Homo sapiens: one gene and its partner. The protein of the gene in region 2 interacts with the protein of the main gene of each other region in a biochemical or structural test. Each region holds a gene or a part of one and is shown on either strand. Other genes may lie near its edges. The genes, in order: ETFA and ETFRF1.

The links.
Region 1: the proteins of ETFRF1 (region 2) and ETFA form a complex in vitro, tested with the Homo sapiens proteins (one study listed by BioGRID).

What each region holds. Positions count from the first base shown.
Region 1 is NC_000015.10:76,214,625-76,217,551, forward strand, and holds the end of ETFA (electron transfer flavoprotein subunit alpha, mitochondrial), read right to left. Parts: intron 1,974-2,927; coding exon 1,935-1,973; 3' UTR 729-1,934; downstream 1-728. UniProt on the Homo sapiens protein: Heterodimeric electron transfer flavoprotein that accepts electrons from several mitochondrial dehydrogenases, including acyl-CoA dehydrogenases, glutaryl-CoA and sarcosine dehydrogenase.
Region 2 is NC_000012.12:25,198,148-25,205,457, reverse strand, and holds the end of ETFRF1 (electron transfer flavoprotein regulatory factor 1), read right to left. Parts: exon of another isoform or gene 1,626-7,310; intron 1,539-1,625; 5' UTR 1,502-1,538; coding exon 1,451-1,501; intron 1,368-1,450; coding exon 1,146-1,367; 3' UTR 315-1,145; downstream 1-314. UniProt on the Homo sapiens protein: Acts as a regulator of the electron transfer flavoprotein by promoting the removal of flavin from the ETF holoenzyme (composed of ETFA and ETFB).

The DNA of each region.
Region 1 (2,927 bases), on a different chromosome or scaffold from region 2:
ATCCTGACTCTCATTTATAAGCTGTCCGAATTAAGGCAAGTTATATGACCTCTTTGAGCCTCAGCTTCCCCATCTGTAAAAGAGGGATAATAATAGCATCTAACTTACAGGGTGCTGTGAGAACTGAAGGGGTTTAATATGTATAAAGTGCTAGAACAGTGCCTGGTATATAGTAAGCATTATACTTAATGCTATGATGATGATGAGCTGTAAATACTAGTCCAGTGAACAGCTGCTTGGGGCTGAGGCAGGGCAGCCATGACAGGAGGGAGCAAAGGGAGAAAGACCAACCAGTTCAACTCTGAGCCGAGGCACCACCTGGGATGTCCCTCCCTGAGCCAGCACACCTTCTACTGGGGGTGCCTCTGTGGCCATCACCTTTGCCATCTCTCCTGTCCCCCAGTTATAGCATCCAACAGGGATGAGGGGTAAATGGAAAAAATCTTGAGCAAGGTTAGCCCTCTTAGGAAGAACCTCACAGATAAAAACAAGACATAGGAATTACTCTCCCAAAGGTGATTCAAGCCATGTGGCCTTGGCCAAGTCACTTTACCTTCTTCACTTCTCTGTGCTTCAGTATGCCCATCTATACAACAAGGGGTCTGACCAGATAATCACCGGGCTCAGACATTCTAGGATTCTTCTATTCTAACAGACATTACTTGCAAAGAGGCATCATTCTACTGCTCTCCTCTCATCTCATTAAAAGAAGACTGAAATGCCAAAGATACAACTTTTAAAAGTGTTTTATAGCAACTGATTGTGACACAAATCAGAAAGGGTTCACTAGTCAGCTGGGGAAGGGCCCCAGGCTGGTCACACAAAGGCACTCTAGCCACCTCCATCACTTATCACTTCCCTTCTCTTCCCTACTGTCTGCTTGATCCAGGTCACTACTCCTACTTCTGCAGATCTGATTCAGGAGGGCAGCCCTCTTTGTTCTACTCACCTACCTACCCACGCCTTCCTGCAGGCCTGTTCAAAGCCTCACCAGCCTCTGCTCTTGGGCCTGCATCCACACCAGCTGCAGCCCTGGTGACACTCTTGGACCTCAGCTGTGCCCTGGGCAGCAGAATGAGAGTGCCAGAGGTGACTACACAGGCCTGGGTGCTTCCTAAGAGAGCCCAAAAGAAGCCAACAGAAGGCAAAAGAAAGGCTAGAGCATTCTCTGCACAGGATTTTGAATGTTTATAATAACATCAAACTATCTGCTTGCATCAGAGGCCATGCTGTCTCAAAGCAGCCCCTCCTCCACTCTCCCTCCTTTACAGACAAAAGTCCTATAAACTGACAAAACCTTAAAATTAAACGGAAAATGAAATTTACCTTAAGCCAACTAAATACATGGAGCTGGGTCAGGTTTAAGTCAGGTCTGCTTTTGTCACATTAGCTATGGTCTTCTGAAGACTGGAGTATGTTTAAGATAATATTCATGCTTTATAGCCGTGCTTTTTTAACTCTGCACTTGCCAATTCAGTTACCTTCTCCTATGAAGTTTGCCCTTCAACAATGAGATTAGTAGGTTGATTAGGCTGGTGGAGACAATCATGTTTACAATCTTCCTAAAACATAGAGCTCTCCATGAACAAGAAAGGCAAAAAAATAAATAAATAAACAAAATTTTTACTCCTTTTCTTCAATTTTCTCTAGAGGCTAGGCATATTTCTGATAGTTTTAAAGCTGTGGAAAAGCTTTATTATAGATTTTAGTACAGAATTTAAAAAGTTCAAACAATAATTGTTTGGAACCACAAATAATTAAAAGGAAACACAGCAATCCCATAAACAAGCATTCTGGCATCTGTTAGAAATTTTCCCTCAAATTATGAAATGTAGCTCTCCATGCTTTCCAATGATTGTTATAATACCCACAAATATCTGTGATTTCAGTGGAATACTTTAACAAAAGTTTTCTTTTTAAGGCATGATCCTGATTCATTTTTTCTTCAATATCTCAGTCATTTCAGGAACTACCTGCAAATAAAAACAAAAAGTAATTAAGCAACTAGAGCCTTCACTGTGATATGGTCACAGCTCCGTAAGCATTACAGGGAGGCCAAAAGAAACAACACAAATCACTGTTGAGGCACGAGGGCCCCCTCCTCTCCACCAGGAACCCCCTGTTCTCCGGTAGTCTCTCTTCCCACCCAGGGCGACTACCCAGGACCCAGGGCTGACAGGGCTTACAGCCCACTCATTGCCTAGGTGCCTTTTGCCTTTTTTTTTTTTTTTTTTTTTTTGAGACAGGCTCTCACTCTGTCACCCAGGCTGCAGTGCAGTGGTACAATTATGGCTCACTGCAGCATCTACCTCCTGGGGTCAATCACTCCTCCCACCTCAGCCTCCCAAGTAGCCACCAACCTGTCTAATTCTTGTAGAGATGGGGTATCGTCATGTTGCCCAGGCTAGTCTCGAACTCCTGGGCTCAAGTGATCTGCCTGCCTCAGCCTCCCAAAGTGTTGAGATTACAGGCGTGAACCACTGCACACACTGCTACCTTTTGGCTTTGTGACCCAACCACAAATTTCAAGAAGGCACCCTAGAAACAGGAAGCCCAATTTTTCTTGTCTGGGTGAAGAGTACTGTGTATTTACCTTCATGTTTTGCTTGGCATTCTTCCCACCCTTAACTGCATTCCTGACTTTCCTTCCAAGTCCACACCAAAGTCTCTAGCTTACTGCAATTATGACTCCTGCCAACCTCCTTTATACTTGTTCTCTCACTGTTCGTTCATTCATTCATTGTTCATTTCACAAACATATTGGTTGCTTTTTCAGCAGCATGCTACTATCATCTGGCACACAGAAATGTGCTACATGCTGAACATTCAATATCATCACTCTTTATTAAAATCAAGACCTTGTGTGCTAATGCAGTGGCCGGTCAGCAGACACAGTAAGAAACCACAGCAAGGGGAAATGGCCTGAG
Region 2 (7,310 bases):
CAGTGTGATCCAGTTGTTTTCCATCATTTGGTTGCGCTGACCTAGGAATGTTGGTCATATCAAACATTAAAAATGACCACTCTTTTAATTGAAATTAACTTTTAAATGTTTATAGGAGTATGTGCTGTGAAGTGATCTAAAATTTGTAATATTTTTGTCATGAACTGTACTACTCCTAATTATTGTAATGTAATAAAAATAGTTACAGTGACTATGAGTGTGTATTTATTCATGAAATTTGAACTGTTTGCCCCGAAATGGATATGGAATACTTTATAAGCCATAGACACTATAGTATACCAGTGAATCTTTTATGCAGCTTGTTAGAAGTATCCTTTATTTCTAAAAGGTGCTGTGGATATTATGTAAAGGCGTGTTTGCTTAAACTTAAAACCATATTTAGAAGTAGATGCAAAACAAATCTGCCTTTATGACAAAAAAATAGGATAACATTATTTATTTATTTCCTTTTATCAAAGAAGGTAATTGATACACAACAGGTGACTTGGTTTTAGGCCCAAAGGTAGCAGCAGCAACATTAATAATGGAAATAATTGAATAGTTAGTTATGTATGTTAATGCCAGTCACCAGCAGGCTATTTCAAGGTCAGAAGTAATGACTCCATACATATTATTTATTTCTATAACTACATTTAAATCATTACCAGGAACTGTTTGTTTTGTAGTGAACCTTGAGTATGTGCTGTTAATATACCAAATTGGGTGAAAAAATAAGGGATTCCTTTCAAAAGTTAAGAGAAGTAAGTGTGTAAGAAATTATTTTGCTTATTAAATGTTCGGTAAATGGCATTCTCTTGTCAGTAAAATGGAGAAATAAGCTAAAAATAATTGGCTAAGTCCTATTAAGTTAGAGGATTAAGTGTATTATATTTTCATTCAAAATTGGGTGCTCATTAATTTATGATCGGTAGTATAGCTAAATTGCTATGTTTGTATCAAAATTGAGCATAAAGTTGCTGATACTTTCTCCGTATGAACAGAAGTTGAAACCTATTTAGTTCAGTAGGGCAGCTCAGGGATTTTTTACACAACATGTATATCTTCCCATTTTAAGTTAGAATTATTTTACAACATCTGGTATACATAAACAGCTGGCACTGATAGCTAAATTAAAGTAGTAATGATCAATTAGTTTTGTTGGTATCTGAATAATAGCGTTGTTTCATAGCTCTGTATTTCCTAAGGAAGTACAAAGCTTCTAGCTCTTTCATTACAAATTCGCCCTGTGCAATAAGTTCTTTGATCTTCTCTGGATTCTTCACATCTTTGTTTTTAAGGAAAATGTTCTTCAAACGCTTTTTAAAATAGTCTGCTCCTTTTGGATAGTCTCGTCCAAGATACAGCAGCTTCAAAAAGAAAGATTATATATTTCTAAACAATCCATGTCATATAATAACATTTTTATAAAATTGGCAACATAATTACTTACATTTTTATAAAGTTTTAGTACTTCTCCTCTTAAAGAATTGGCCATTTTCATTTATCATGTAAATTATCCACTTTTATGCATAACATACCTAAAGAAAGGAAAATTTTTTTGCAATTAGCTGCATTGTAGTCTTAAAAAAATAAAAAAAGGTTATACACATTGAGAAAATGGTAACCTTTTTTACATTCAATAAATATTTCTTGATAACTTTTTCGTTCCACGTACTGGGATATAGTTATAAACACTTCCGATAAAATTACCTGCTGTCATAATTGACGTTTTCCTATGGGAGACATAAGCAAAGACAATTGTGATTGTGAGAAGTCACATGAAGGAAATGAGAAAGTGGATTGTCATCACAGATAGGTACGTGTACCTCCTTTTATGCCACAGTGGAATGAGTTAAACTAGATTTAAATTCCAGTTGCATAATGTACAGATTAATTAACCTTGCTGAGCCTGAGTTTTCCTTATCAACAAACAAGAGATTATCTTTACCCTGCTCTCAAGGCAAGGCCAGAGCCACTTGAAGGACATTGAGCAGAAGCCTGATCAAATGCTGATGGGTGCTTATCCAAAGGGAGGCTGAAAACTAGCAGAAACTGGGTGAGTTAAGCAGGTTGGAATAGTAGATGGGCAGTAAGATTGGTGGTGAAGAGGCCAAATGAACAACCTGTAAGAGGGTGTCCCTGAGGAACAGGCAAAATCATGCTTCTTTATGTGTAATGTGTTAACTCTACTTTGTAGAGGAGGCTCCAAACTTAAAGGCATCATGACAGTCTAAACCTAGAAAATAATTCCCACTACCTGTTAGAGTTGAATAGTAAGCTCTTAACATTGCATCCTATCAGGTGGATGCAACTGCAATTTGTTCCATTGTGATTGATAACTTTGATTACCCAATTAATGTATTTGCTAAGATTGTCCATTGTAAAATTATTTCTCCAAGGAACCTAGTCCTTTTAATGGAGAATAGCATTTAGAAACTATAATCTGGATGGAATGCTTTAGAAACCAAGGTCTGGGTGCTAAAAATGCTAATCACCATGGGACTGTCACTGTTCCCAGGTCCTCTAAGTGACAAAGCTGCAAGTGTATATACATACGGATTTAGGTGTTGTATGTGTGTATGACTTTTATATTAATCTCCATATAATCTGCTACCTAACATTCAATTCCAATACTACAGGGTTTATTTTCATTTCCCCTCTTTACATGGGTTTAATACTCTTGCTGAACAGTGAGAAGTCTGGTTCCCACTTGTCCTTAATAAATTTACTTTTTATAATCATCACCCCTTCTCTCACTATGTAATCAAAATCCTCTTGCTGTCACCATTCGGCGCACACACTCTACTCTCTGAGCTCTGCCACCTAATGCCAGAGTGCCACTGCCACCATCCCACATGCATGGTCTTCTCTTCCCCCTTTCCCCCAACCTACCCTTCTTGGGCTCAAGCAACTTACACTGCACCATTTCCTCCCTCCTGGGTAAGGCTCACCTTTTGTTCCCATTCCAAAAACCTGTGCCACCATTTCCTTCACCCTAATAGGATGCCCTCCTCATCCCCTGCTAGGCTGCTGCTGTGCACAAGTCCCTACCCCCAGAGGCCCTCCTCACTGCATTTGGGCTCCAGTATCCCCTGCTGGGCTACTACCTTGCCAGCCTTTCTCTCGCCCCCACCTTCCCCAGATGCCTGCCTTGCTCAGCCCCACGTAATGACTTTTGGACTGAATTACTCTGATAGGCAAGCAGGAAGCAACTTTTTTTTTTTTGAGATGGATTCTTGCTCTGTCCCCAAGCTGGAGTGCAGTGGTGCCATCTCAGCTCACTGCAACCTCCACCTCCCTGGTTCAAGCAATTCCCCTGCCTCAGTCTCCCCAGTAAGCTGGGACTACGTGTGCGCGCCACCACGCCTGGCTAATTTTTTTTTTTTTTTTTTTTGTATTTCAGTAGAGACGGGGTTTCACCATGTTGGCCGGGATGGTCTTGATCTCCTCACCTTGTGATCCACCCACCTTGGCCTCCCAAAGTGCTGGGATTACAGGCGTGAGCCACCGTGCCCGGCCGCAACTTATATTTTTAAAATAGGCTTTTAGATCAGTTTTAAGGGTTATTTTATAGTTAACTAGCAGAAAATGTGGATTAAAATTACAGTACCATACTCAATTAAAAATCATGCGCTACATAATTTAAGTTCTCCTGTTAACTTCTGTTTGGGTTGAACCCCGAAGTACAATAGTGTAGATTCTCATTGTGACCTCACCTGCCCCTTTAGGCATTTTGCAAAATTTACACCTTTTACAATTTGAAAGGCAGGGTGCCAGTGCCTTCATGTATTTCATTTAATCTGAAATTTTTATACGTATTAGACATAGAAACTGCATAAAATATGAATGTACAAATTAAAGTAAAATATACATCTGGGTACCCATCATTCAAGTTATGAAACAAAAGTCTTAGAAGCCCCCATGTGCCCCTCTCCAATTGCTTCTCCTTCCCCATCTCTACCAAGATAGCCTCTAATGACTTCCTGCTTATTCTCTTTAGTTTTCCCAGCACTCATGAACATTGCCCTAAATATTTAATTTTGGCAATTTGAGCAGCAAGCACGAATCTAGCAAGGAAAAGGGCAACAATGCTGCTGTTAATTAAAGCCAAACAGCCCTAGTCTGGCTTTACCTTCTCCAGGCTTTCTGGATCCCTTCTAGAGAAGTTAATTTGCAATGTCATGAGTGAATACTGGGCTCCTCACAACTGAAGCATGTGGAAAGATCAAAGTGTAGAATTGATACCTGATTTCTGGCCAATACATAGCAAAAATGGGAAGGAGGAAGGCTATTTTCTGCTTTAAGCTCACCAACGCCCAACATCAGCTTTCAGGAATAGGTTGAAAAAGAAGGGTAAAAATGAGTGTCCTCAGTTGGTCCAGTCAGCACAGCACAGAAGAGAGCAGGAATTTCATCACCACATGGTCAAGACAAGGCAAATACCGGTAAGAATCTGAGCCAGGCTTGCCTGGGCATAATGTCCTCAGATTAAAAAGATGATACAATGGCAGCAGGGATCTTAGTGATAATAGCCATCAATGTGAGTCATGCTGCTTGATTCTGGACTGACTGCTCTCTACATCAAGAAGCACAACTGTGGTGCTGGAATCCTACTTGACCATGCTCCCAGAAATTCCTCTTGCCTATCCTCTATGTTGATTATCCCATTTTCTACATTCCAAAGTGTTCCATTTCCTGGTTTTATTTTTGTTTCTGTGGAGCACATCCTAACTTCTTGAAAAGGGTACATGGAAGGTAAATGAGACCCTGGATGTCTAAAAATGGCTGGCTCCCTCTATCTGTTTGATAGCTTGTCTGAGTATAGAATTGAAAGCTGGAAATAATTTTCTTTTCAACATTTTGAAGTAGTTGCTCGTCTGTTTGCTTTTACCATTGCTATTAAGTTCAAAGCAGTCCTGGTAAGTGATCCTCTGTATGTGATGTATTTTTTCTCTCTCTCCCCAGAAACTTACAGAATCTTCTCCATGAAGATTTTGAAATGTTAGTGATGTGTTGATAATGGATTTATTTTTATCCATTGTACTGGACACTCAGTTGGCCCTTGCAATCTGGACACTTGTTTCCTTCAATTTGGGAAAAAATTTTAAATGATTTCATTCATGATTTCCTCCCTCCTCCATTTTCTTTTTTCTCCCTTCCTGGAACTTTTATTATTTGGATGTTTGAACTTCTAAACATGTTCTCTTCCTTTTTTCTGTACTATTTTCCATTTGTCTTTTTTTTTTAAGCATGGAGTTTCGCTCTTATCACCCACGCTGGAGAGCAATGGCCTGATCTCAACTCATTGCAACCTCCGCCTCCTGGGTTCAAGTGATTCTCCTGCCTCAGCCTCCCAAGTAGCTGGAATTACAGGTGCCTGCCACTAAGCATGGCTAATTTATGTATTTTTAGTAGAGATGGCTTTTCACCATGTTGGCCAGGCTGGTCTCGAACTCCTGACCTGAGGTGATCCACTCTCCTTGGTTTCCCAAAGTGCTGGGATAACAGGTGTGTGCCTCTGCGCCCAGCCTTTTATTTAGTTGTATGGGGGATTTTCTCATTTTCTTCTTCCAAGTGTTCTACTGAGTTGTTCATTTCTGCTCTTCCTGGACAGTTAATTTTGACCACTCAGATTGCTCTCAGCATAGCTGGAGACTACTATAGAGATGTTAAAAATACTCAAAAATTATAATAGAGTAGCCTGGGAATGGGAGTAGGGGCTGGAGACCAGGAAGGAATCAAAGATGCACAAGGCAACCTTTGTGGATAGTGGATATATTTATTGTCTTGATTGTGGTGATGGCTTCATTGTGTGTGTGTGTGTGTGTGTGTGTGTGTATGTATACATATATGTATATATACAAATCTATATAATTAGTATAGATACTATATAGTATATAGTATGTAGTTTTCCCACCACTTAGCCCTGTTCTTAGACTTTTGCTGGCATTTCTATTACTTGCAAAAATATATTAAAATATATATTGACAAACAGAGGTAGCCAGCCATTTTTAGTATATAGTATACTATGGTATATATATCTACCATATACTACATAGTATGTACTATGTAGTACATATATAGTTATGTACTATATATATTACTATATACTACATAGTACAGTATGTACTATATGTACTATATGTACTATGTAGTACATACTACGTAGTATATAGTAGATATATATAGTATATAGTACATAGTAATTCCTTTTATTTTTGTTTCTATGGAAACAAAAATATGTATACTATATATTATACTATATGTAGTATATATTATAGCACATATATATCTATAAATATGCATATATAGATGTGTATATATATGAACCAAATTTATCGAATTATACTTTGTAAGTGTAATTCAGTGTCAATTCTACTTCAGCAAAACTTAAAAAAATAATAGAAATGCCAGCCAAAGTCTAAGAACAGAGCTAAGAGATGCTGAAATAACACATGGAAGTAGAAATCCATCTAAACCACAAGGCTGCCAATTCGTGGGTAGGATAGGTGACTCTACCTGTCCTCAGTCGATGGCTACACAGAACTTGGGGTATGCCTCTCTGGGGAAGGAACCCTGGAATATACACTTGAATCAATGAAAAAATCTGAAAGACACTTGCCGCCAGCATAGCAGTGAAGCCATGACCTTTTCTTAACTGAAGGTCATACATTTACTGCTTTTCTGGCTCCTCTTTCCTAGGGAAAAAAATACTTCTACATTAATACTTGTTAAATTGTACTTACTACTAGTTAATGAGCTAATTCACATAACAAGCATATTATGTAGGCATTTTTTCTTTCCAAGTTCACTGATTCTTGCTTTCTTGAAATTTTCTGTTGTTTTACTTCAAATTGCTTTTCTGCTTGCTTTTGTCTCTTATCACTTCTGAGCTGTTTTACTTCAAATTGCTTTTCTGCTTGCTTCTGTCTCTATCACTTCTGAGCTTTCTTCCAAAGTCTGGTCATTCTTTTCTGTCTACTCTTATGAATGAAAAGACAAAAAAGCTTTTTAGATCTGTATACGTGGGTGAAGCATATAGACTCTGGGCTTCACTTAGGGTGCTCTGGGTGGGCCTTTACTGGGGAACCTCTGATGTCACTATCTTGGATTGCTCCTCCTGGGCTGGTCAGTTCCTCAGAGTTGAGTCTTCCAGTCTTCTAAGGATAAGAGGAATGCGGGCCCTGCATCCAGCATTATGTATTCCTAAATTCACTTAACTTTGTTTCCAGTGTGCTTCTCTAGAATGCCTGAGGATGCCCCAGTCCAGGGACTAGTATTACTTTGTCCAGAAATAAACCTCTAGTCTT